Homo sapiens: one gene and its partners. The protein of the gene in region 1 interacts with the protein of each later gene in a biochemical or structural test. Each region holds a gene or a part of one and is shown in the gene's direction. Other genes may lie near its edges. The genes, in order: PDZK1, SDK2, CRHR1 and RPS6KA1.

Region 1 (5,912 bases):
GAACCAACTGAAGCTGCCAGAAATGATGAGTCATTTTGCAGTTGGTGGAAAGTCAAGCAGAAATCAGAGGCGGCTGCTGCAGCTGTTTGTTGTAAAGGGGATTCTGACCCCTCCTGATCTTATCATAGAATGATTTAATTGTAATTTTTCTGTTTTGGTTAATAGAGAACTTTGATCGAAAAAGAAGCCTGCCCTCATCATCTCCTTCCCCGCTCTCCAAAGTAAGCCCTGTAGGTTGGGGTGGAGGGTAGATCTTTGAGATACATCAGTGAGTAAAACACAACCCTCTAGCAGTCCCTGGCACATACTAGACACCCAATTATCTGAATGAAGCATGAATAAAATCTCATTTTTTTTTTTTGAGACAGAGTCTCCCGCTGTTGTCCAAGCTGGAGTGCAATGGTATGTTCTCAGCTCACTGGAACCTCTGCCTCCCAGGTTCAAGTGAGTCTCCTGCCTCAGTCTCTCAAGTAGCTGGGACTACAGGTGTGTGCTACCACACCTGGCTAATTTTTATATTTTTAGTAGAGAATGAGGTTTCACCATTTTGGCCAGGCTGGTCTCGAACTCCTGACCTCAAGTGATCCGCCCACCTTGTACTCCCAAAGTGCTGGGATTTCAGGCATGAGCCACCAAGCCCGGCCAAAATCTCAAGTGTTTTAATGTTATTGCACTTTGCCTCGAGATGAGCTGCGACTGTCAGATACAGTTGATTTGCTTGTTTGGGTAGTGTTATCAGACGTATTTTTGCATGTAATGAGTCACCTGATAATTTTCCATATTTTAAAGAGAAAGGCTCCATTGTGGAACTGTTGCAAGTATATGACTGAAAGGTCTGAAGTTAGTTGAACTGGGTAACTAGGAGGTTCTGTGCTGGTGGTATTCTCACTTAGAAAGGAAGGAGATGTGGTCTTGTGGTTAGTAAGACACATGATAACCAGAGGACTAAAAATCTAATTTTAGTCAGGCTGCTAAACAGTGCGATTTGAAGTAGAGCCCACACTGTGCTCACCTTCCATTGCTTGATTTCCTACTCATCACCTAACAAATGTTCCGGACACGTGTGGGCAGCCATTTAGCTGCTGATCCAGGATCACACCATACCCAGGTCCACCCTTCTAATTGTCTCAACTAAAACAGCCAGTTAGGCTTGTAATTCTATTACAAAAAAATCAATCCTGTTTCCTGTTCTATGCCTCTTCGGTATTCAAGATCATCATTTCTTTACATGGATGGTCTGGGAGTTGATATGAATTAGGAGTATTTAAAGATGTTGGAGAGTTTGGCATAATAGAAGTGACAGCTAATGCTTACAACAATACATAGCAAAATAAATAAGCACAGATCCCAGGTCTGGAAGGGGAGGGTATTGGCAAGCAGCAAAGGGTTGGAATTAACTTTTGTTACAATATGTGACCATATAACAGCTGTCACCCTCTCACCAATTATTCCTGTGTATATGGGTTGGTCTCTTCTAGTAGCTTTGAATCTTTGGATAGTGATAAAAATAGTGTTATATTAACATTCTCCAGAGAGACAGATCTAGTAGGATATAGATACAGGTATGAGAGGAGATTAATTAGGGGAATTGGCTTGTATGATTATGGAGGCTGAGAAGCCCCACGACAGGCTGTCTTCAAGCTTGAGACCCTGGGATGCCAGTAGTGTGGCTCCGTCCAAATCTGACTGAGCCACATTACTGGCATCACCCCTGATTGGCAGTCCTACTTGTTTGCTTCTGTGCATTTGGCCTGAGAATCTGGGGGGCTGCGGCTGTAGATCTTAGAGTCCAAAGGCCGGAGAACCAGGAATTCTGATGTCCAAGCACAGGAGAGGAAGAGGGTATCCCAGCTCTAGCAGACAGACTGACACCTTTGCCTTTTCTGTAGTTCACTCAGACTCGCATGCTAATCCCCTCTGGAACCACCTTCACAGACACACACCAAAATAATGCTTTGCCGGGCTTCTAGGTATTCCTTAATCCAGTCAAGTTGGCATCTAAAATTAACTATCACAAGTGTCTTGTGTTTTACTTTTTCTAATGTGTTTAAGGAGCTCTGAAGACCATCTTACCGAAAGGAAAAGCCAGAAGAATGTACTCTGCATGAGGTACCGGCTAGTCGGTCAGATATGTCATTTCCCAACAGGGAGATTATGTATAGCTTGTTCAGTGACTTGCTCACTATCATGAACTCACTCAAAAGAAACTAGCAATTTTTTAGACTTCTTTTGGGATCCTTGTACCGCATCCTATACTGCTTTTATGTTCATGTGTGCATTTGTGTACATGTATACACATATTACTCCATAACGAAGCACAGTCTTCTTTTATACCTTTCCTGGTTGGGGTAGTAGAGGAATTTTACAGCCTACAATCAGACACATCCAGAAGAAGAGTGGAATATGTATGATACCTTAAAAATCAGCACATTTAACAAAGTATAACTTACTCATGGTTACAACTAAGTTAATGTTTTTTCCCTTTATTTTTCAAAAGGCTCATTTTTCTCCATTTCTCTACTATCAAAGTCAAGAACTGCCCAATGGCTCTGTCAAGGAGGCTCCAGCTCCTACTCCCACTTCTCTGGAAGTCTCAAGTCCACCAGATACTACAGAGGAAGTAGATCATAAGCCTAAACTCTGCAGGCTGGCTAAAGGTGAAAATGGCTATGGCTTTCACTTAAATGCGATTCGGGGTCTGCCAGGCTCATTCATCAAAGAGGTATGGTAATCTGGTTCCAGCAGCCCAACAAACACAGCCACAATTAGGATAGTCTCAGCTTTTCCCACCCATTGATGGCTTAGTAGAGAGGTTCCATTGAAGGCACACACTGAGGGGTCTCACTTGGGTTCAGATAAATGTTGTCATGGTCCCACACCCTTTAGGTTAGCTACCAGTACATCATAAGCTCACGTTTGTTTGTTTCCCAAACATCTGTTCCAAACAGTGTGAGTTGACTGAACTCTAGTTGACAGTCACTATCAACCCTGATTGGCAGTCATATTTGTTTGCTTCTGTGCATTTGGCATAATGCCCCTTACCCTGTAGGGACTGATAAGAATCCCTAAAGCTTTCAAGTTGGGAGTGAAGAAGGGGGACCTATTTATCCCCCTTCATCCCAGAAGACATATGATGCTGAACCACTATTTATAATACCACTAATCATGTGAATATGGAAGTTATAGCCTTCATAAATATAAAAGCATTAGAACACCTTTCTCAACTTCTATACCTCAAGGAGAAATAATAACATGATTAAAAATAAATTCTTGAGCTCCTCATCTATTCTCTTAAGGAGAGCTAGTCTGATGTCCCCTTCTCTGTTTGAAATTGATAACTCAGAACTTCTGTTCACAGGTACAGAAGGGCGGTCCTGCTGACTTGGCTGGGCTAGAGGATGAGGATGTCATCATTGAAGTGAATGGGGTGAATGTGCTAGATGAACCCTATGAGAAGGTGGTGGATAGAATCCAGAGCAGTGGGAAGAATGTCACACTTCTAGTCTGTGGAAAGAAGGCCTATGATTATTTCCAAGCTAAGAAAATCCCTATTGTTTCCTCCCTGGCTGATCCACTTGACACCCCTCCAGATTCTAAAGAAGGAATAGTGGTGGAGTCAAACCATGACTCGCACATGGCAAAAGAACGGGTGAGTGGGGGCCTATTTCTTTTCGTGATCTAATTTACTAGAGTATGGGTACAGTCCCTATGAGTATATTTAATGTCTATGTTTGCCACAGATTTTTTTAAAACTAGAAAATGAAAATGTAAAGATAACTAACAAATCAAGTTATTGTAGAGGACAGGAGGCAGTATAAGAACAACAAATTTCTTACTTTCATAGCATGCAGCTGACAGCAACTGTCTAGAGCTAATAAATCAAGAAGTAAAAAGTTTATCAGTATTGTAATGGGAACCCCCAAAAGAGCCTGAATCGGATGATCTAGATATGAATTCTGGTTCTGTCATTTGTCAGCTGTGGGGAAATGGATTTATTTGTTCTGTTCCTCAGTTTTCCCACCCATAAAACAGGAATAATTTGTAGGATTGTTATCAGGATCATGTTAACTAAGATTAACTATATTAAAGTGCTTTGAATAGTGGCTGGCTCATAGTGAGCATGTAAGTGGTGACGGTTAAAGACAATATTGTTTAAAACAACTGACAGGTAATCCAGTTTTATTACTAGGAAAGATTAAGCATTCTCTATATTATTCTCTATATATTTGGATTAAATTTCTTGGTAAGTCTCAGTTTTATATTTTTGCCCAATTTTTCATAGATGAACTTGAGGTCGAAAAGTAAACTGACTTATCCAAGTTCATAAAGGAAATTTATAGCAAAGCCGAGACTCTAAAAAAGTTTAATTCAATGTTGTTCTTCTTTCCATTATATTAATTCTGCTAATGGGTGGAATATTCATTTTAATAAACTCAGTTTAATGAACACACACAATGCCCACTGATTTGTATTCAGGAATGCTTAATAAATACTATTAGTTGTATTAGTTGTCATTTAAAAATTCTGTAATTTCTCTTTAGGAAGTCAATATCCTAGTCTTATAAAAAAGAAATATACACAGACATTAAGGAATTTGTTAATGTGTCAAACAGCAAGTTGAAAACAATCAAGTGTAGAATTCAGGTCACCTGACTTCTAGTCATACCCAGATCATCTGATTCAGGCTCTTCTGGGGGTTCCCATTACAATACTGATAAACTTTTTACTTGATTTATCAGCTCTACACAATTGCTGTCAACTGCATGCTGTGAAAGAAAGAAATTCTAGTGAGTGACTCTACTCCCCGACTTAAGTCATGCAACTCTAGAATAGATCATCCCTCTTTCATTACTCTACCATTTGTAAATTCTTTGTTTTCTTATACACAGGCCCACAGTACAGCCTCACATTCTTCTTCCAATTCTGAAGATACAGAGATGTGATGAAAACAAGTAATAGCTTTGGCTGTTTATTTGATAGCTGTTTCTGGGTATTTAATAGGAATCCTTTCTCAAGGAATGAGTTGTGACCTGTTTACTGTCTCTTTAGAAGAAAAACTCCACTGGAAACCATTCACCATGTGTGATTGTCTTCTGTTATCATTTGTCTTACAGGCGGCTATTGCAGACGGCTAATTTATGCTTAACTTAGGAAGAGATAAGGCAAGAGCTAGATTTTTTTCATGTGATCTTTTCCAAGCTTCAACTTAACTTAACTACATTTCTCTGTATGATGATGTCTCTTACTTCTACAGGTTCCTTGAGCACCAAAGATGATTCATAACTCTGTATAGGTGACAGCTGCTTATAAAAGCATCTTAGCAGATAAGCCTATTAAAATTGTGCTTTTGTAACAATGTTGTGGTTGCTAGAATAAATACCATTAACAAATGCCTTTTGAGTATGCTTGATAGTGCTTTTGTTTTGGATTCACTTTTTATGCTTTAACCTTCATTTGCCTCTAGAAACCCAAAACACAATAAAGTACAGAATAAGACCTTAGTAATAAAATTCAGAATTTTCTTAAATTGCATGTCTGAGTGTTCTAAAAATTTTTCAACATTTCCCTTTCACAAGTGACTTATTCCCCCAGTTAAGTTATTCACGGTTTCACCCCACAGCGTGAGGGGCAGATAGAAAAAAAAAAAAGGAAACATCACTACCGAATTGAAAGTAGGGTATAATACTAAGTTCACAGGAAATCAAGAAAAAATGACATACCTGAAATCTCTCTTTTGGTAAAATCTATTTCAGGTGCATACCACCCCTTTCCCGGAAAAGAACAGATAACCTCTTTCTTGGTTATTTTAATGGGGCAGGATCAGATGAGGAGGTGTGGGATGCTAACTGATGTTAGATCACACAAGCATAATAAATACCAAGCTATGCTTGATAAAATGAACGTAAGGCAAA
Region 2 (6,590 bases), on another chromosome or scaffold:
CCCATTTATAGGAAAGTCCCAAATAAGTTAATCCCTGGAGACAGAAAACAGATTAGTGGTTGCCAGGGGCATGGATATAGGGAGTGACCGGTAGGGGCAGAGATAGGGAGTGACTGCTTCCTGGGTACAAGGTTTTACTTTGGGGTGATGGAAATGATTCAGGGCTGGATAGAAGTGGTGGTTGCACAACACTGCGACGGTCCTAATGCACTGAGTCATAGACTTTAGAATGGTTCACTTTCGGTTATGTGAACCTCACTTCAATTGAAAACAAAGGTAGACTGGGCACGGTGGCCCACGCCTGAATCCCAGCACTTTGAGAGGCCAAGGCGGGTGGATCACCTGAGGTCAGGAGTTCAAGACCAACCTGGCCAACATGGTGAAACCCCATCTCTACTAAAAATACAAAAAATTAGCCAGGCATGGTGGCAGGTGCCTGTAATTTCAACTACTCCAGAAGCTGAGGCAGGAGAATCACTTGAACCGGGTAGGTGGAGGTTGCAGTGAGCCCAGATTGCACCATTGCATCCAGCCTGGGCAACAAGAGTGAAACTGCGTATCAAAAAAAAAAGAAAGAAAGAAAAGAAAACAAAGGTAAGGTAAAGTAGCTCACGCCTGTAATCCCAGCACTTTAGGAGACCAAGGCAGGAGGATCACTTAAGTCCAGGAGTTCTAGACCAGCCTGGGCAACATAAGGAGAGCTCATCACAAGAGAAAAATTTTTTTAAGTTAGTGGGGCGTGGTGGCATGCACCCATAGTCCTGGCTACTCAGAAGGCTGACATGGGAGGATAGCTTGAGCTTAGGAGGTTGAGGCTACAGAGAGGATCACACCACTGTGCTCCAGCCTGGGCAACACAGTGATTCCCTGTGCCCCTTCCACTCCCCGCCCCCCAAAAAAAAGAATAAAAAGGAAAGAAAATAAAATTTGCCAGGGATAGTGGCTGACACCTGTAATCCCAGTACTTTGGGAGGGTGAAGCGGGTGGATCACTTGAGGTCAGGAGTTCAAGACCAGCCTAGCTAACATGGTGAAACCCCTAAACATACCAAAAAAATTAGCCAGGCGTGGTGGCACATGTCTGTCATCCCAGCTACTCAGGAGGCTGAGGCAGGAGAATTGCTTGAACCAGGGAGTCAGAGGTTGGAGTGAGCCAAGATCATGCCAATGTACTCCAGCCTGGCAACAGCGAGATTCTGTCTCAAAAAAAAAAAACAAAAACAAAAACAAAAAAAAACTCAGGTCTTCTGATTCTATCAGGTATCTCCCAGCTCTGGGCCAACCCCATAGTAGATCCTTCCGGTTCCGGATCTGCTGTGAAGGAAGCAGCAGGCGGGCACAAACGGGCACCAGACCCCCTTGGCAGTGAGGGGGCTGGGAGGCCCACAGTCCAAGTCTTGAAAGAGGCAGAGCAGAGTTTTGAACCAGAATGCCCTGTGCCTTCCGGCCCCAACCACAATGGCCTGTCCCTACGGGGCCACTGACACACCCTGATTCTCTGTCCTCCCAGGGAAGTGACAGCGAGTACGAGGTCGACTCAAACCACCAGAAGGCCCACTCCTTTGTCAACCACTACATCAGTGACCCCACATACTACAACTCGTGGCGGCGACAGCAGAAGGGCATCTCGAGGGCACAGGCCTACAGCTACACGGAGAGCGACTCGGGTGAGCCAGACCACACCACCGTCACCAACAGCACCAGCACCCAGCAGGGCAGCCTCTTTCGGCCCAAGGCCAGTCGGACTCCAACGCCCCAGAACCCCCCTAACCCCCCAAGTCAGCAGAGCACCCTCTACCGTCCCCCCAGCAGCCTGGCCCCAGGCTCCCGGGCTCCCATAGCAGGATTTTCATCATTTGTTTGACATCAGAAGAGGAAAAAGCAGAAAGAGAAATGGCACCAAACTCCTCCTTCACCCCTCCTCTCACTGCCTGCCAGAAAACAAAAACACCAAGAAACCAAGTCAACTTTTCACCTCCTGAGTTTATTTTTCCAGAGATTCCAGGGCCAGCAAAGCCGGCGTTCAGAAGGAGGGAGAAAACCGTGAGAGGATGTGTGTGGCCAGCAGCTCTTCAGCTTTGAGATGGTGGGGTTCACTGCTCCCTTGGGAATTACACGGAGCTGGGGAAGTGGCTGTGTCACTGCTATGGACACGGAGTGGGGCGGGCATCTGGAGAGAGAGAGGGAGCGGAGGCTAAGGACTGGAGGCCGCCAGGCAGGCGTGGCCGAGGGAAGAAAAAGCTTCTGGATGTCCAGCCAGCTGCCCCCTTCCAGCCCCTCCAGGACCCCTGGACCCACTGCCGCTGCTCTCTGCAAAAAGAATGGGCATCCCGGAGGCCACGCCTATCTTCTCTCTCTGCTCCTCCTTCCCTCCATGCACCATCACTGTGGCTGGCAGGCATCGGACAGCCTCATCCAGACCCCCTGCCCTGTCTTGGCAACCTCTACTGCCCATCTCCCCTGCTCAACTTCTCCACCAAGCATTTGGTTTATTTAGAAAAAGGAAGAAAAACAAAAAACAAAAAACTAAAGGGTGAGAATTTGCTTAGCGCCTTCCTTGTTCCTGCATATTTTTTAAAATATTGAATCCAAGGAAGAGAGCCCAAGGGTAGGGGAGAAACCCCCCACAACTGACCCCTGCCTCCCTGTGCTGGAATTGACTTTCCTGAGCATGGACAAGGAAAGGTGAAGTCTGGGGAGCAGAGGTGTAAATAAGGCGACTGGCCTTGGCACTGTGGGATGATTAGGTTTAACGCATTGTGGGCAAGATAAGAATGACACTTTGACTGTTCTCTTTCTTCCAATCCAGGTTCCATCCGTCCTCTCTTTAAAGGGGTAGTCAGCTTCCCAAGGCTGGGGAGTGGGGCACAGCTGAGGGATCTCCCTCTGGGCAGACACGTCACTCTCCACTGGATAGATCCTCACCACACACACACACACACACACATCTCCCATGCACTTACAAGGAACAGGGTCTAGGGATCCTCTCCAGAACAAACTCATCTGGGCCCTCCTAGCCAGACAGCACACTCACTTTCAGATCTGTGTCCCTCTCACTGCCACCCGGCAGCCTCCTAAGCACAGAGGCACAGGAGCCCAGAGGGGTGGCCCAAGTCCCTGGTCCAGAGGCTGGAATACCCAGAGTTTGCTCAGTCAGCCTAGCACCCAGTTTACAGGCAAAAAGGCAAAGACACCCTAACCCCCAGTAACAGCTTCCAGGCTGGGCTCCGCCTGGCCAGGGCGGGGAGGGGAAGGGGCAGGTCAGGAAGCTCAGTCCAAAGTGGACCCAGCATTTGAATTGCACGCCCAGCAGGGGCAGGTCAGATGGGACCAAGTGACAAGAATAGCTGATGGGAGGGAATGCTTTTACACACACACACACACACACACACACACATACACATACACAATCTGCTCCAAGGAGTGTTCTGCAAAAAGCCACATCCAGTGGCCAGGATCTTCCCGTCCACTTGGTACTTACGGATGCCAGGGTTTAGGGAGAAGCCTTTCTATCTAACTCCATACATTGTCCAAGGCCCTCTGTGCCCTCAGCCAGCCCTGTAAGGCCAGCCCAACACCTGCCCCACCGCTGAGATGGGTGGCAGATGGCCCACAGGGGCCTGTCTGATTCAGCGTGAGCCCCTTCGTGGAGCAGGGCTCCCTCTGTGCACTGTGTACAGGCGCTGCTGGCCCTGCCCAAGAGATGATGCTCTGTTGGGGTGGGTGAGCAGAGTTCAAGGAAGCCCAAGTAGGAGATTTGGGAAACATGCCAAGGTAAGAGAGAGCCTGGACCACTCTCCTACAGCCCCAAGTCAGTCACTGTGCTAATGGTGACCGGGAAGGGAAGTCAGGGTCTGGGGCCCAAAGAACGGGCACACCCAGCCATGAGTTTTTCCTGAAGCACTTGACCCCTGGGAAATGTGAACGGGGAGATGCTGGAAGATGGCTCAGCAGACAGGCCAGCCCAGCTCCAGTGTCCAAAAAGCGGTTTCTCCAATAAGGAGGCCTGGGAAGGGAAGCACAATCTTCCCCAAAGGAGAACCAAGGGCTGAGGTTCTGCCCCTCCAGGAAGTAAGGTGCTCTCGGGGCCTCCTTGGACTTGTCTGGGGGCTGCAGTGGAGTCAGCTGGACACCTGCTCCACCCCTGCCACCTCCGCCCCCACCCTCTGCAGCATCTGGCATCTCCATGGCAGCACATCTGCAGCTGCCGGCCTGTGATCGTGCCGCACAGCTTTCTTTTCTTTCCTCTCATCTTTTTTTTTTTTTTTTTTTTAAATAACTTCATCCCTTTCCCTCTCTGCTGAGCATTTAACCATTTAAGGAAGTTCCCAGTTTGCATTAGGGAATTATTTAAGCCCAGCCCAGTGAGGGATTATTTGGGAGGAAGCAGGAGTGAGTAAAAACATTGTGTCTGTGTATATATTGCACATGAGGTCAATTTTCCTTTGCCTTTAATGAATCACCTGGTGCACTAAGATATTCCACCCCCCCACTCCCCACACGCTCATTCGCACCCATGCTGACACCTACGTGTACATGCGGGATGGTGCCCATGCACGCCTGTGCTTACACACATGCACACACAAATATGCACAGAACACACATCTGTATGTGTGTTAGCAAAGAGACTCCTGAACTCCCTCTGATGGCTGAAGCCATCTCTCCCCTGTGAGGCACAGGTGGCCTGGGTTGCTTGCACTTGGGGCGTGGCTGGGATCTATTGTCTGAGAGGGTGAGGACACCACGCAAATTTAGACAAGCCCATGAGATCAGGCTGGGCCCATGGTGAAAGTCCCACACTTAGTCAATACCCACTCATCTGGAATATTGTCTCCACAGCCCCAGCCACAGCTGGAAGCCCAGGCCTGCAGCTGTGGAACTCTAGATTTTTTCAGGACACGTCTCTTTGCCCTTGTTTACATATCTACTGGCACAGCCGAGGCTCCCAACCGTCCTCCCAGAAACCTGGCCACATTAGAAAGGGGTGGTGGGCCCTGCCCTTTGTAGAAAGAGTGGGACCCTTTCTGGCCTGTGATTTTCCGTGCCAGTGATGCCAGGGCCCCTGCCTGTGGGACTCCACCCAAAGCAGGTTCACACCAGGACACACCTGGCACCTTTGGCATTGCCTCCTTGTGCCCTAAGCAATCTCCCAGTGTTGCACCCAGGAGCCCATGCTGGGCACACCAGGGCTTTCCCCTTCCTGGCTGCGCCTCCAGAGTTGACGTCAGCTCCACACCCACACTGCCAAGACAAACCAAAAAGATGCTCTGGGCTCCAGAACCACCATCCTCCTAGGGCTCCAGAGAGTTTGCAAACCCAGGCTGCCTCCCCTTCTGTCCATCCCTCACCCCCCGGCCCCCAAAACTCCTACCCCCAAACCTGGCACTGCCGTGATTTAGAGGAAACAAGGACACAGCGGGGGCTGCCCCCACCTGGTGCACGCTGCCTCAAGGCCTTCTGTTGCTGCCCACGCCTCCCTGGGCAGTGCTTCTAAAGGTGCCAGAGCCTCACCACAGTGCCACTCTGGCTGGGCAGGGGCTTCCCTCAGCTTCCCAGAGTGCACATCTGAAGGTGCCTACCCTGGGTGAGGGGCTGGTGGGCAGGAAGGTAAAGGGGAGACCATCTGAGCAGCCGCCACCCGCTCCCCAGTGCCTCTGTATGGCCCTATCCAGGGACACCCATGGGCATGCGCACATGGCAATCCTGACCACCACCTGAGCACAGGTGCCCCCTCGGGACCACCCCCCTTCTCTTTGTTTCCATCAGAATAACCAAAAGCATTTAAACGTGTTACCTTTCTCCATCCATCTAGACTCCAGAAACAAAAATCAACACAAATCTTTATTTTTTGATTTAAAAGATATAACAAAAAATTATGGGGAGAGTATTCATTATGGCAGGTGTCTGTCTGTAAGAAAAAAATATATATCTCTATGTCATATAGCGTGTTAGCAGGTTTATTTTTTAAATGAAAGGTAAGAAAGAAATTGATTTGAAATATATACCACAAGAAGTCCCGTGTCCTGTCAAACTGTCAGTATTTTATAAATAAACTTTTTTTTTTGGAGATTTGAAGCAACATTCTTTTCCTTCCTGTTACATGAATGGGGTCACCTGTCCCAGTATCATACCCAAGCAGTTCATTCCCCAGACAGCAATTTTTAGCCATGCTGTGCTTTTGCAGAGAAGAGTCAAGGGTCTGACTTATCTGCTCTCTTAATGCATAAGTGAGTGCCTTCCAGTGAAATGCACTATTTTATTTATTTTAAACTTTTAGAATAAGAACCTACTTGATGCAATGTGCAAATTATAGTGAATAATAATAATAGCAATAGCTAATATGTCTATGGCATTCACTCTGTGCCAGGCACAGTTCTAATCACTTTACGTTTATTAACTCATGGAATCTTTGCGACAGTCCCAAGGAGGAAACCTGGGACAGGGAGACTTTAAGTGGCTTGCCCTCGGGGAGTGGTGGAGCCAGGATTTGTACTAAAGCCTTCTGGCTCTCAAAACATAATGCTGCCTCTCTGATATTTTAAGGCAAGCTCCTTGTCCATTTTTATTTTAATTTCTACAGAGCTAGCACCC
Region 3 (7,028 bases), on another chromosome or scaffold:
TTGAAGGGTGATATTTGGCAGAGGCACAAATATATCTATCCTGGAGCTGCTACTGCCCTCGGTCTCTCCCACCCTGTCTCCTTTCCCACCCGACGCTTTCTCCCTTGGTGCTGAGGAAGACGGGGGTCAAAGGGCAGAAGGGGGGACACCCCAGGCTGTCCGAGGGCCAGGGATTCTGATTGTGGAAGAGAGAGACTGACCTAAGCAGTCCCAAGAATCCCGTCGCCTAAAGATCAGAGCTGGAAGGGACCGTGGAGACTCTCCTTCCCATCTTGAGGTTCCCAGACTTGCCTGGTTATAAGAATCGTCCAGAGGCAGATCTCCTGAGGTCAGGAGTTCAAGACCAGCCTGTCCAACATGGTGAAACCCCATCTCTACTAAAAATACAAAATTAGCCGGGTGTGGCGGGATTACACCTGTAATCCCAGCTACACGGGAGGCTGAGGCAGGAGAATCGCTTGAAACCAGGAGGCGGAGGTTGCAGTGAGCCGAGATTGTGCCATTGCACTCCAGCCTGGGCAAAAAGAGCGAAATTCCATTAAAAAAAAAAGTGGGGCCAAGTGCGGTGGCTCACGCCTGTAATCCCAGCACTTTGGGAGGACGAGGCAGGCAGATCACGAGGTCAGGAGATCGAGACCATCCTGGCCAACATGGTGAAACCTCATCTCTGCTAAAAATACAAAAATTAGCCGAGCATGGTGGCGCATCCCTGTAATCGCAGCTACTCAGGAGGCTGAGGCAGGAGAATCACTTGAACCAGGGAGGCGGAGGTTGCAGTGAGCCCAGATCGCGCCACAGCACTCCAGCCTGGCGACAGAGCAAGACTCTGTCTCAAAAAAAAAAAAAAAAATGGAATCTCCCAGAGCACTTGTCCAAATACAGGTCCCAGGGCCACACCCAACACCTAAGAAATCACACTGTCCAAGGAGGACCTGGGAATCTGTGTCTTTCATGAGTGCCCCAGGGGAGCCTTCTGATGGGGCAAAAGTGAGAAACTCTAATCTAGTGCGACCCGTTCACACTACAGATGGGGAGACTGGGGCCCAGAAAAGGGGAATGATTCACACAAGGTCACGTGGCTCTGGGACATTCCCTTTTTTTTTTTTTTTTTTTTTTTGAGACAGAGTCTTCCTCTGTCGCCAGGCTGGAGTGCTGTGGCGCGATGTCGGCTCATTGCAACCTCCACCTCCCTGGTTCAAGTGATTCTCCTGCCTCAGCCTCCTGAGTAGCTGCGATTACAGGAATGCACCACCATGCTGGGCTAATTTTTGTATTTTTGGCAGTTAAGTCAGAGCCCGGAACCCAGGGCTTTGGAGCCCAGGCTCCGGAGCACAGGCTCTGCAGCCCAGGCTCTGCTTTGCCCACTGCCAGGTATCTGGCGTGAAACAAAGTTAACGGAGAAAGAATCACTTTCCTTCACCTGTAGCTCCCACCCCGGCCTGGCAAGCTTTGGTTAGCCCCACCCCTGGCTTCCTGGCCTCAAGTCACTGAGCTAATGCGGGGCTCTGCTGTCTCCTTCCGGAAGCTGCAGCTAGGTCAATGCCTAGCTTAAAAGACTCACGAGTTCTTCCACGGTGCTGCTCTGGCAGGGCGAGGGGCTGCCTGGCATCTCAGATCCCACAGGCCAGACCTTTGGGTGGCACTCAAGGCTGGGGTGGGTTGGTCAGGCTCCCTGATGATCTGATCTGAGCAGGGAAAGCCCTCAGCTTGCTAAGCCCCCACACAGAGAGCCCACCTGGGAAGTCCTGGGATTGGGAGGAGGGCTCCTCCTGGACTGGGGGAAGGAGGTGGGGTTCCAGGTTAGGAGACTTAGTTGGGCCAGAGGAGATGGCCTTGGCCTTGGCTGGTGGGGTGGGAGTGGGCAAGACCGTTCAGGGATGTGAGGAGCCCGTAGCCTGGCACACAGTAGAGGAGGTGGGAGGAAAGGAAACAGGGCTGGTGCTCAGAGGAGCGGGTCAGTGCTGTCAGTGACTCAGGACCACACGCCATTGCAGAGAGGGATGGTGTCCAGGAGGCACAGCTAAGCCATGAGGTCAGGCTGCAGGCCGCACTGTCTGTCCCAGCTTCACGCCCTGCACTCAACCCTCCTGAGGGTCAGCGCGGGGTCTTCGTGGTTCACCTGTCTCTCCTGCTCTATTGCAAGCCCCTTCTTTTCAGTTGGCTGATGGGGACACTCGGCAGCCCCCATTTTCCCCAGCACCCTTCAAAGGCCTAAGGGCAGTAGGTTAGCCACCCTCAGCCTGCCCTGCAACACCCAACCCTGCCAGGACAGGGGTCTCTACCTCTGTCCACCAGCAGGGTTAGGACAAGGAAGAGGATCGGGAGCCCGGTCTCATCAGCCCCCTCTTTGCATTGCAGTGGGAATAGCACGGACCTTAGGGTTTGGGTTTCAACGGGAACCTGCTGCATGACCTTGAGGAGGCAACTTAACCTCACCAAGTTCCCAAAAATGGTGGCCAGGAATTCAGATCTCTGCCTTCTGGGGATGGAAGGGTGGTGTTGGCCTGTCTTGGCCTATGGGAGACGTTCCATTCACCTGCCGCCCCCTGTCTCTCATCTCCCCTGTGAGGTCAGGGGAGGTTGTAGTGTACACCTGGGGGAGTGACCCGCCCCACCCCCCAGCCCATCCGTGCCTGGCTCTGCCATCTCTTTCCTCTGCAGCCCCTGCTGGCCTGGTGCCTAGCACTCTGGGTAATCGATTAGTTTAATTAGTGAAAATGCCATTCCCTTCTGCCAGCCCCCAGCCTCGCCAGACCCCTCCCAGAACTGCAGAGGAAAGTATCCAATTAATTGAGTGGTAGGTTTCTCAGCTCTGGGCCTGGGCTAAGCCCTAATTAAGCTCCAGCGCCCTGGGGTATCGCAGATAATGGATTCGCAGAAGTCTGCCTGTGAAATGGGACTTGCAAGGGCACCTCAAGGCCAGGCACCCCAGGAGATCTGCCCGCAGCCAGCACCACCAGGGGACAGGCCCCCAACTGTTGCATGCATGGCTGGCCGGGGGATGGCACTGAGCCCCCAGCACCACCCCTACACCTGCTGCCTGTATCAGCACCCTCTCCTCCCCCCACCACCTCCCGCTACTACTGTTCACTCCCTTCCCCACCGTCCAGCCTTCCCCCACCCACCCAACACTTGCACACACTCTATCCCCTTTCCCCACGTTCTGCTGCGCACAGGAGCCTGGGCCTCAGGCACAGCCTGGGAGAGCACACCGTGGTGGGACATGAAACGGATTCTGGGGGTCTGGTTTGTGGACCAAGGTTCACTGCTCACCGTGTGGGGAGAGGTGAGTGGTGGTTGGACCAGGGCTTCTGAACTGCAGAGGTGCTTTTTCCTAAAACCAAGCTCCGATTCCATGGGCCTGGCGTAGGGCATACATTCCACTTTCCTCAAGATCTCTGCGTGCTCCTCTGCGTGCTGTTGCTGGGCCAGGGGCCACCCTTTGAGGATCGAGGGGCTGGAGTGAGTGCCCACTGCAGGGTAAGAGGAGTAGCTCTGGAAGCCTCGGTGGAGAGGACGTGCCAGAATGGAGTGGGCACCAGTGGGGAGCTTGGAAGGGAGGTCTCATTGCCACCAACCCAGAGAGGCATCAGGACGGATCTGGCACTGCAGCGCCTGGGACGAGGTGGTGTCCTGCAGAGAGTCCAGTCAGAGTCAGCCGGGCACAAATTGCTTATTCAATTCAGATCACTGAGGGTACAGCGGAGTGGCCTCTGCCAAGTACCACGCTGTGCCACCCTCCTTAGGGCGGGGTGCCTGCTGGTCTTAGGTCTCCAGACTGGATGGAGATGGAGTGCTGGTCAGGGCCCGAGGGGTAGCTGTGCCCATTTGTCCTTCGGACATCCCAGCTGCTTTGCTGTTATCGTGGCCATCGGTCGGGGTGTCACTGGCTGTCCCTGGGGGTGCTGCTGACTCTCCTCTCCAGGTATCACTGGCCACCTCTCAGGGTGTTCCTGGGTGCCTCTTAAGGCCTTGCTGTCTCTCTAAATAATGCTGGCCAGAACTCTGGTTGTTATTGGAAATGTCACAGTGTCACTGGCTTCTGTCTGGGTGTCGCAGGATGTATTTGTCTCAGGGTATCAGCAGCCATCCCTCAGGCTGTCTCTCCAGCTGTCTTCTCAGGTTGCATGATGCTGATGTGGCCGATGAGAGACAGGGCTTGAACCCGGCCCAGGCCCGACTGCTCAGGGAGGCACACTGAGACTTTGTCCCCCGGGAATGGTTTGGCCTGATTCTCCCTCAGGCTCTTGGAGGAAAGCCCTCTTGGGCGCTATTGTCCCAGCAGGAGGTCCCCCGAGGCTCCTGGGCCCAAAGTGGCGTGAGACCACCCCAGAGAGTGCCTCTGCTTTCAATTCCTGCTTGTCCCCCAAGAAATGTCGCAGGGGGCCGGACACGGTGGCTCACGCCTGTAATCCCAGCACTTTGGGAGGCCGAGACAGGTGGATTGCCTGAGCTCAGGAGTTCGAGACCAGCCTGGGCAACATGGCAAAACCCCATCTCTACCAAAAAATACAAAATATTAGCTGGGCATGGTGGTGCATGCCTGTGATCCCAGCTACTCGGGAGGCTGAGGCAGGAGAATCACTTGAACCCAGGAAGCAGAGGCTGCAGTGAGCTGAGATCCTGCCACTGCACCACTCCAGACTGGGCGACAGAGTGAGACTCCATCCCTCCCCCACCCAAAAAAAGAAATGTCCCTGGGAAACAGGGAAAAGAGGGAGCTTAAAGCCAGGCAGACCCAGGTTCCAGATACCGGCTGCGTGGCGTGGCCAATTATTCAGTCTCTTCTACGGAAAGAACTGGGATGAGAGGAGCAGTCTCCAAGGGCAGCTGTGGGAAAGAAAAGCAGTAGTGTCTGCAGAGCTCCTGGCACAGTGCTCAGCATACAGCAGGTGCTTAACAGATAACTCCTCCCCACTCCAACCCCAAGGGCCCGGTACGGCCTGACTCGGGAGTGAGGCAGGGGCCCTGGAAGGCAGCACTGAAGGGTCTCCCTGCACACTGCGCTCCTCCCGCCCAGCCTGGGCCTGTGAACAAGGCCGGGGTGTTGTGCCATGCTCGGCTCCACACATGTTGTCATTACCCAGGGGCTTCTCAGCATGGATTTGTGGAAAATTTAATAAAAGGATATTAAATACCAGCTCCAGACAGCCTGTGATGTGTGCATATCTTCCAGAGCCTCCGGATTGGGGCATCTGCCGCCAGGCGCTCAGAGACCCTCCCCACTTGCACGGGTGATAGGTACCCTCTCCTCACTCCCCTCTCTGTCTCTGTCTCTCCTGCCTTCATTTACACCTCCCTGGATCCCAGTCCTTTGGAGGCTGGAGTTGCTAATGTAATTACCTGCCATGTTCCAGAAAGCCTCTGCCTGGAAACCAGCTCCAAGAACAGAGCTTCTGTAGCAGCCTCTGGAGAGGTTCCCCAATGAGGGTGCTCCTTCAGAAGGGCCTTGGTGGCCGGGCGGAACTGGGCATAGGGTCTTGGCTTCTCCTGGGATGCCTGGTGGATAGGGCTGGACTTGATCTCTGGTTTCAAGTGGGTTCTGTAATTCCAACAGGAAGGCCTATGGAGTAGCTCCTTGGTGGCCAGTAGCTCCTTGGTGGCTCTGAGAAGATGATGAGGGCCGTTGTGAGCTCAGTGCTTCTCAGCACTTGCATGTCACCCACCTTTGTGCCTCATGATCATTCAGCCCCACCCTAGAGCCTAGAAACGGGGAGGAAGGGAGGTGCTGCCAGGGACCCCTCCCTTCTCAAAGTCACCTGCTTTTCAACACCCGTCTTTCCTTCCTTCACTCACACACTGCTTTGGAGTTTGACTGCGTGTCAAGCTCTTGGTTTCTAGGCCCTGCTTCTTGGGACCTATAAAAGTGTGGATGGGGGCTGTGCTCTTGGGCAGGAGTCTGCAGAGAGCTGGGCATGGGGACTGACCAGTCCCCTATTATGGGCTGGGGACCTGTTTGCAGCCTTCGTATCTTGCCAATCTACATGTGCAGGCAAGAGGTGGTTTTGGAGTTGCGCGACCTCCAGCGCGTCAGCATAACCTCTGTGCTGTTTTCCTACAAAATAAAGCCCAGATGCCTTTCCGGCTCCCCCCACGGGGTTGCCCTGATGGTTTAAGACGATAACAGATATGAAAATCCTCTGTAAACAGGAAGGCTTCACCACTCTTGGAACTCAAGATTGCTGTAAAGAGGAGGGCAGTGACCTCCATCAGTATATTAAATTCATTAAGAAATAAACCCGGGGAATGTGTTACAGTCCTGGGAGAGGATCCTGCTCACTCTGCACAGATCCCCTTGGGCCAGGGATGGGGAAGGCCCCGGAAAGTGAGTTATGGAGCCTAAGGAGACTTTTCTGTGGTTTCTGCTGATTCTGTGGATGCCAGAGCCCAGCAGCTGCCCGGCCCCTCCTTGCTCACAGGAGCAGGCGGCATTGCAGCAGGAGGGATTTAGGGGTGGCTGAGAAGGTGGTGACTCAGTTCAGAAATGGGTGGAGAAGAGAAATCCCGGGAGTTTGGTGTCTCTGCAGCTGAGAGGTCCACCTGGTGTTCTGACTGGGTGGCAGCATGGGTAGATGCGAGTGTGAGGGCGCACCTGTGAGCCGGCCACATGTGCTTGTGCATGCAGGGGCGGGGGGTCCATGTGGAGTGGGGAATCCCACGTGATGTGGAGATTCAGTTCGACACAACACGGAGCAGTGAACACAGCATGGGATTCAGGGACAAGCAGAGCCTCAAACTGGACGGCGTTGCTCTGCAGCGAGGCCTGACCCTCAGCAGATGCTCAGGAAGGGGGAGTGGCCCTTGAGATCATGACCCGCTCCATCCCAGCCACCCCTAGGCGATGTCCTCACAGAGCAGCTCCCATCCAGCAGAAGGCTCACCTCTGCCCCTCTCTCCTGCTCCAGAAAAAAAGCAAGGTGCACTACCATGTCGCAGTCATCATCAACTACCTGGGCCACTGTATCTCCCTGGTGGCCCTCCTGGTGGCCTTTGTCCTCTTTCTGCGGCTCAGGTGAGAAGACCCCAGC
Region 4 (7,028 bases), about 120 Mb from region 1:
TAGAGGTCTTTCCTTGATAAAGCCCTATAGAATTTTCCCTAATATCTAACTACCCTCAAATGATAACTAAGGAGCCAGGGGCAGGTGGTGAGTTGGAATAAGATCTGGCTTTAGTGTTAGGCAGCCCTGTATTCAAATCCTGTCTCCACCTACTAGCTAGACTTACTAGCTCAATGACTGTAGAGCTACTTAACTGCCCTGAGCCTTAGTTTTCCCATTAGCAAAACGGGGCCCTAATAGTACTTGCCTCACACAGTTGCTTCAAGGATTAGCAAAAAAGATAGGCAACACCCCTGCGTGGTACTGCTACCACCCTGCAACACCCGCCCAGTCATCAGAGAGAATTGGGTGGAGCACCTCCTCTGGGCTGAACCCAACTCCCACAGCCCTGTGGTAACACCATCACCCACACGGCCACAGCTGAGGGGCCCTGACCACTATTTCTCTATTACAGCATCCTTCTGGATGAGGAGGGCCACATCAAACTCACTGGTGAGTGGAGGGCGCCTGCCCCCTCGGGACCCAGGGGAGGACAGGACAAGGTCATGATAGGTCTCGGCTGAGTGCTGGGGGCTCATTCTTCCCGAGAAGCCGTGCCAGTTACTTGGAAGTGGTCAAAAACTCAGGCCTCAGACTTGGAACACCCTCAGCTGGAATCCCAGCCCCTCATTGTGTAACGTTGAGCAAGTCACCTGACCTCTCTGGGCCTTAGCTTCCTCCTGAGTGTCATGGGGGTGATGCCTTCTGGCCTCTGGGCACGGGGGTTGGGTGTGCAAAGGGTGGCAGCAAGGAAGGCAGGGGTCCTAAGGTGTGTCCTCCTGCCCTCCTTGCTGTAGACTTTGGCCTGAGCAAAGAGGCCATTGACCACGAGAAGAAGGCCTATTCTTTCTGCGGGACAGTGGAGTACATGGCCCCTGAGGTCGTCAACCGCCAGGGCCACTCCCATAGTGCGGACTGGTGGTCCTATGGGGTGTTGATGGTGAGTGCCCAGACAGGGGTAAAGGATCCAGCCCAAGCCTCTGGCCTCAGTCTCCCTATCTGTACAGTGAGGGGGTTGATCATTTCTAGGGCTCTCCCCGTCTCCTCTCACAGCCAAGCTGGCCTCACCCTATATGCACCTGCAGTTTTCTTCCTTGGAAGGATCCCAGGCTTGACCCCACCTGGGACGCGCCTAACCCAGTGCTGGCCTTCTCCCCAGCCTCGCGCCCCCACCGCTGCTCCTGGTGGTCTGGTTGGCAGAGGCAAGAGGGACGGGCATAATTCTTGCTCCAGGCTGACTTGGATGTATCAGCAAGAATCCTGGGACTGGGGCAGAGGGGTCTGACTGGGAGGAGGCGGGAGGTGTGTCGGAGACAGGGATCAGAGCCTGAATAGATCCTTGTCCTCTGCAGTTTGAGATGCTGACGGGCTCCCTGCCCTTCCAGGGGAAGGACCGGAAGGAGACCATGACACTGATTCTGAAGTAAGCCCCAGCCCTGCCCTGATAACAATGGACTCCTCCAAGCCCCAGCCCCAGTTTGGGGGTCAGAATATTATTACCCTGTCCCTGCCTCAGCTACCCTCTCTAATGAGACTCTCCTCTGGGTTAAACATTATACCTTCCAGAGCCCCTCTTTCATCCCTGGGGGCCTGTGGGTAGGATCCCTGAAGCCTTTGGGAAGTGAATTAGTGGATGGCTTGTCTAGACTGAGCTGGGAACTAGATCTGGACAGGGGCCGGGGGAGATGGGGCCTCTGGGGCAGGGCTCAGCCTTGATGAGTCCCGGGGGCTGTTTCAGGGCGAAGCTAGGCATGCCCCAGTTTCTGAGCACTGAAGCCCAGAGCCTCTTGCGGGCCCTGTTCAAGCGGAATCCTGCCAACCGGCTCGGTAAGCAGCCCCAGCTCAGGGGAGGGGATGTGGCGATGGGGAGCCGGGTACAGCTGCAGCCTAGGCCACAGGGCCACATCTGGGCTGAAAGGGGCCGTTGTCCTTTGTGTGGGCAGACAATGCCGCGGGCCACCCTGCTTTCTGGCTCCATGTGTGGTGTTGTGGAGGGGGGAGTTGACCTGTGTGTAGGGGGAAGGCAGGAACTGAGTCATCCCTACTCCCTCTGGGGACAAGGACAGAGGCCCCCACACAGCTTCTCCGCCAAGGCTGCTGGCACAAGAGAAATAGCATGAGCTCAGGAGTCAGAAGGCATAGGTCCCAATCCCGGCTCTGTGTCAGGTCCCCACTGCCTGGCACAAAACAGTCCCTCTATAAATATTTGTTAAACGAATGAGGCCACTTATGAACTAAGTGACCCCAGGCAGGTGACTTCACCTCTCTGCACCGCAGGTTCCTCGTCTCAATGGGAGATGATGATCCCAAGCTTGCTTCAGGGCTCTGTTGATGAAATGAGGTTGTGTGAACATGCCGGCATGTAGTAGGTGTCCAGTGTGTGCTGGCTTCCCTGGCTCCTGGGTTCATCTGGTCCATGACCAGCTGTGTAAGGTCCAGTCAAGGCCCCTGGGGTCGAATGGAGTAACAGCCTGTCCTATGGTTGAAAAGGTCAATGGGATAAGAGGAACAGAGATGAGGCTTGCCTTGGAATGAGGTGGGGCTCTCTGTAGGTCTCAGAACAAGCTCAGCTTCTGTTCTAACTGTGTGGCCTTGGAGAAGTTGCCTAAAGTCTCTGGGCCTTCCTCCTCCCACTGGTACATTGGAATTTCTTCATCAGAAGCTCCAGAAAGTGGAAAATGCTGAGTAGGTGACAGGCCTTAGGGTGATGGCTGGGTAGATTTGAGGCTGAGTGAGCCCATTTTCCCCTCTGCTCCAGCAGCTGGTCCCAGAGCCCTGTGAGGCTGCTTGGTGGGCAGGGTAATATCTGGGACTTGTGCCAGCCAGGGACAGACCCTTCATTTGGGCTCTTTCAGGCTCCGGCCCTGATGGGGCAGAGGAAATCAAGCGGCATGTCTTCTACTCCACCATTGACTGGAATGTGAGTGTGTCCACCCACACCAGGGCTCTGGCCAGGGCTCAGCCATCTTGGCCACAGGAAGGGTGGTGGGAGGGGAGCCTCTGCCAGCGAGGGCCCCAGACGCAGGAGCAGAGGGTCACAGCCTGCCCTTGAAGACAAGGGCTGGCCTCCTGAGGGCAAGCAATTCCGAGAGCTGGGCAATATGGCCTATGTTCCAAGCCCAGCACCTCCTCCTGCATGGGGCTCCTGGTGGGCTGTTGAGGATGCCATGGTGACCAGAGTGCCCACCCCACTGTGCAGAAGCTATACCGTCGTGAGATCAAGCCACCCTTCAAGCCAGCAGTGGCTCAGCCTGATGACACCTTCTACTTTGACACCGAGTTCACGTCCCGCACACCCAAGGGTGCGTCCCTTATCTGTTTTGTCTGTCTTGGGCTGGTACAGGAGGGAAGCCGGGAGTCGGTGGCAGCTTGGGGGGCAGAGATAGTCAGGGACACTGACAGGCCGAGGTATGCGGGTGGGCAGGCGGGTGAGTTTCTGGCTCCGTGGGACTGACTTTGTCCCTGTCTCACTCCGCCCGACTCTCTCACTATGGGGCTCTGTGGGTCTCTTTGTGTCTGGTGAGAGAGTGGGAGTGGGGATGTGTGGGTGGTGAAGGCCACAGTAGAAAAGCCAGGACCCCTGCCCGGGGCACCTTCCAGCCCACTGGGAAGACCAAACACATCAGGCTTACCATCACGTCAGGGAGAAAGAATCTGACCCAGCCACACTGTGTGGTGGCTGAGCAGAGGTGACAGTGCCCATAGGTCAGGGACAGGCATGGGAATCAGCTTTGGCTGCCCTGACTGCCCGGCCTCCGTGTACTTATCTGGAACAAGGGCACAGCCACAAACCCACTCATTCCCTGGGGTTGCTACAAGAAGCCAGTGAGGGAGCTTCTGGGAAGGAACCTGGTGAATCCTAACTTTTTGGCCAGATATTGACAGTGGGTGTGGGGTGGAATGTTCTGGGAAACCTCCTATAAGGGCATGTTTTAGGAGAGGGTGTGCTTTTCTTCTCTCCTCTCCTCCCCTCCCCTCTCCTCCCCTCCCCTCCCCTCCCCTCCCCTCCCCTTCCCTCTCCTTCCCTTCCCTCTCCTCTCCTCTTTTCAAGATGGAGTCTCGCTCTGTTGCCCAGGCTGGAATGCAATGGCGTGATCTCAGCTTACTGCAACCTCCACCTCCTGGGTTCAAGAGATTCTCCTGCCTCAGCCTCCCGAGTAGCTGGGATTACAGGCATGTGTCAGCACGCCTGGCTAATTTTTGTATTTTTAGTAGAGACGGGGTTTCACCATGTTGGCCAGGCTGGTCTCGAACTCCTGACCTCAGGTGATCCACAAGGGGGTGCTTTTCTCACTGCACTTGCACGCCTCTGATGACAGAGACAGCACTTCTCCAAGCAGTCCGCTGGGCAACGTGACAAGTGCAGCTTCGTAGGAGTCAGGGGCCGGAGGAGCAGCATCAGGCAAGGCTTCTCAGAGGAGGGAGCGTGCGAGTTGAGTCTTGAAGGATAGGCAAGGAGTGGATTATCTAGTTAAAGGGAACAGTGTGTGCAAGGGCTCAGAGACCCCTCTAAGGATCTGAGAAGTCCAACATGGCTCAGCTGTGGTATGGAGAGAGAGGAGGTGAGGATCACAGGGCCCTCAATTGCCAGACTCAGGAGCTGGACTTACTCCTGAAGGCAGACGGGAACCTTTGAAAGGTGTGGGCAGGGTGGCAGATTTGTGGTTGGAACCTTCCCTCTGGCTGCTGTGCAGAGATGGACCTGAAGGGGCTGACGTAAGATGGGGAAGCTGGGGAGGAAGCATCCAGGAAGGGATGAACTGTCTTGGCCTGGGATGGAGGTGGATGTGAGAGTCTTTTTTGTTCCTCATGCGACAGGACTGGGCTGGTCTAATAAACACATATGAGCAGTTGGGCCAAGGCCTGTGATGGACAGGCCCTCTGCAGGCTCCCGCCACGGCCAGCCCCTGAGGCAGGTCTGGAGGCCCTGTGCTCCCCCTTTGCTGGGCTGCCTCAGGGTCGAGGGGACCTCCTCAGGTACCCTCACATTCTCCTTCCATCCGTACAGATTCCCCAGGCATCCCCCCCAGCGCTGGGGCCCATCAGCTGTTCCGGGGCTTCAGCTTCGTGGCCACCGGCCTGATGGAAGACGACGGCAAGCCTCGTGCCCCGCAGGCACCCCTGCACTCGGTGGTACAGGTGAGGGGGGCAGGGGGCTGCTGCTCCATTATCCTTTTCTAAAGAATGGCTGAGTACACAGGCTCTGAGTTGGACAGAACCAGGTTCATACCCTCATGCCACTGTGGGACCAGTAGGGCCTCCAACATAAAACAGGGACAGTAAGGCCCACCTCACACAGTGGCCCTGATAATTGGATGATGATATGGGTGTACATTTCCCAGCACAGAGCCAGGGTCTGGGTACATGTCAGGAGGTGCCCAGGGTGGTGGTGCCGAGTGACTGTCGTGTCTCCGGCATAAGTGTAGCGAAGGACTTGGATCTCATCACACTTGTTCCCCATTTGTACACTTCTACTGCTAATGAAAGTTTCAGGTTGAGAGGCAAGAATGTAGACTGTGGAGCTCATTGCATGGGTTCCAGATTCACAAGATAATGGACTTTGGGGTTTTTTGTTTGTTTGTTTTTGAGACGTAGTCTTGCTCTGTTGCCCAGGCTGGAGTGCAGTGGCACAATCTCAGCTCACTACAGCCTCCACCTCCCAGGTTCAAAAAATTCTCCTGCCTCAGTCTCCCGAATAGCTGGGACTACAGATATACACCACCACACCCAGCTAATTTTTTTTTTTTTTTTTTGTATTTTTAGTAGAGACGGGGTTTTACCATGTTGGCTAGGCTGGTGTCAAACTCCTGACCTCAAGTGATCCGCCCACCTCAGCCTCCCAAGGTGCTGAGATTACAGACATGAGCACCTGACCAGATAATGGACTTTGGATGAGATACTCCCTTCCTCGTGCCTCAGTTTCCTCATCTGTAAATGGGGGAAATGATAGAAGCTTCCTCCATAGAGCTGTTATGAGGATTATTAGAGTTAATACATGTAAAGTTCATGTGGGCTGGGCACGGTGGCTCATGCCTGTAATCCCAGCACTTTGGGAGGCCAAGAAGGGTGGATTGCTTGAGGCCAGGAATTTAAACAGACCCATCTGGCCAACATGGCGAAACCCCGTCTCTAAAAATACAAAAATCAGCTGGGCGTGTTGGCGCGTGCCTATAGTCCCAGCTACTTGGGAGGCAGAGGTTGCAGTGAGCTGAGAACGTACCACTGCACTCCAGCCTGGGCAACAGCGTAAGACTCTGTCTCAAAAAATAAATAAATAAAATAAAAAATAAAGTTAAGGTGACTATGTAATTTATTTTCCAAACTGGGACATCTTAGTCCAGGACAAATATTAAATCAGACTGGATGCAAGGACCGCATGCGCAAGCCAGGGCTGGCCGTGGGGCATGCAGTCACCTGATGAAAGTGCTTAGAATAGTGCCTGGCACACAGCACACACTAAGCACCATTCAGCATTGCTACGGCTAATGTCCCAGAACCTTGAGACACCCCATGAGTTGAGCTGTGACACCCCAGAAAGGGAGGCAGGCCACTCAAAGCCGTACTTAGTGGCACAGCTGGAACTCAGCTCAGGGCTCCTGCGTCCCTCCCAGGCCTGCCCAGACTTTTCAGAACTAAAGTCCTCTCCATGTGTGTTGTGACCCTGTTTCCCACTCCCTACACTGCCCTCTGACCACAGGCTGCAGTCCAGGCAGGCTGGGAGCCAGTGAGTATGCCCATTATATAGAGTAGAAAACTGAGGCCCAGAGAGGGGCAGGCTGTCACCTGCGGTCACATGGCCAACACTCTACCCCAAGTCTCCTGGCCCTTCCCTGGTGCTGTCTCTACTGAGCCAAGACCTTAGGTCCTGGGGGATGACCCCTAGCACTCTAGAGCCAGGGGTCAGCCACAATTTTTGGTCTCCTACAGCAACTCCATGGGAAGAACCTGGTTTTTAGTGACGGCTACGTGGTAAAGGAGACAATTGGTGT

What was found.
Region 2: the proteins of PDZK1 (region 1) and SDK2 interact in a test that uses a peptide from one of them, tested with the Homo sapiens proteins (2 studies listed by IntAct, with this or other methods).
Region 3: the proteins of PDZK1 (region 1) and CRHR1 form a complex in vitro, tested with the Homo sapiens proteins (2 studies listed by BioGRID and IntAct, with this or other methods).
Region 4: the proteins of PDZK1 (region 1) and RPS6KA1 interact in a test that uses a peptide from one of them, tested with the Homo sapiens proteins (2 studies listed by BioGRID and IntAct).

The regions. Positions count from the first base shown.
Region 1 is NC_000001.11:145,670,467-145,676,378, reverse strand, and holds the end of PDZK1 (Na(+)/H(+) exchange regulatory cofactor NHE-RF3), read left to right. Parts: intron 1-165; coding exon of another isoform or gene 166-221; intron 222-2,052; coding exon of another isoform or gene 2,053-2,109; intron 2,110-2,497; coding exon 2,498-2,722; intron 2,723-3,358; coding exon 3,359-3,649; intron 3,650-4,739; coding exon of another isoform or gene 4,740-4,772; exon of another isoform or gene 4,773-4,889; coding exon 4,890-4,943; 3' UTR 4,944-5,114; coding exon of another isoform or gene 5,115-5,135; 3' UTR 5,136-5,394; downstream 5,395-5,912. UniProt on the Homo sapiens protein: A scaffold protein that connects plasma membrane proteins and regulatory components, regulating their surface expression in epithelial cells apical domains.
Region 2 is NC_000017.11:73,333,860-73,340,449, reverse strand, and holds the end of SDK2 (protein sidekick-2 precursor), read left to right. Parts: intron 1-1,509; coding exon 1,510-1,863; 3' UTR 1,864-1,995; coding exon of another isoform or gene 1,996-2,081; 3' UTR 2,082-6,066; downstream 6,067-6,590.
Region 3 is NC_000017.11:45,822,310-45,829,337, forward strand, and holds part of CRHR1 (corticotropin-releasing factor receptor 1 isoform 2 precursor), read left to right. Parts: intron 1-6,905; coding exon 6,906-7,012; intron 7,013-7,028. Other genes in the region: LINC02210-CRHR1 (CRHR1-IT1-CRHR1 protein), read left to right, coding at 6,906-7,012.
Region 4 is NC_000001.11:26,553,760-26,560,787, forward strand, and holds part of RPS6KA1 (ribosomal protein S6 kinase alpha-1), read left to right. Parts: intron 1-454; coding exon 455-492; intron 493-782; exon of another isoform or gene 783-834; intron 835-836; coding exon 837-979; intron 980-1,391; coding exon 1,392-1,462; intron 1,463-1,777; coding exon 1,778-1,866; intron 1,867-2,894; coding exon 2,895-2,959; intron 2,960-3,238; coding exon 3,239-3,341; intron 3,342-5,047; coding exon 5,048-5,178; intron 5,179-6,966; coding exon 6,967-7,028. UniProt on the Homo sapiens protein: Serine/threonine-protein kinase that acts downstream of ERK (MAPK1/ERK2 and MAPK3/ERK1) signaling and mediates mitogenic and stress-induced activation of the transcription factors CREB1, ETV1/ER81 and NR4A1/NUR77, regulates translation through RPS6 and EIF4B phosphorylation, and mediates cellular proliferation, survival, and differentiation by modulating mTOR signaling and repressing pro-apoptotic function of BAD and DAPK1.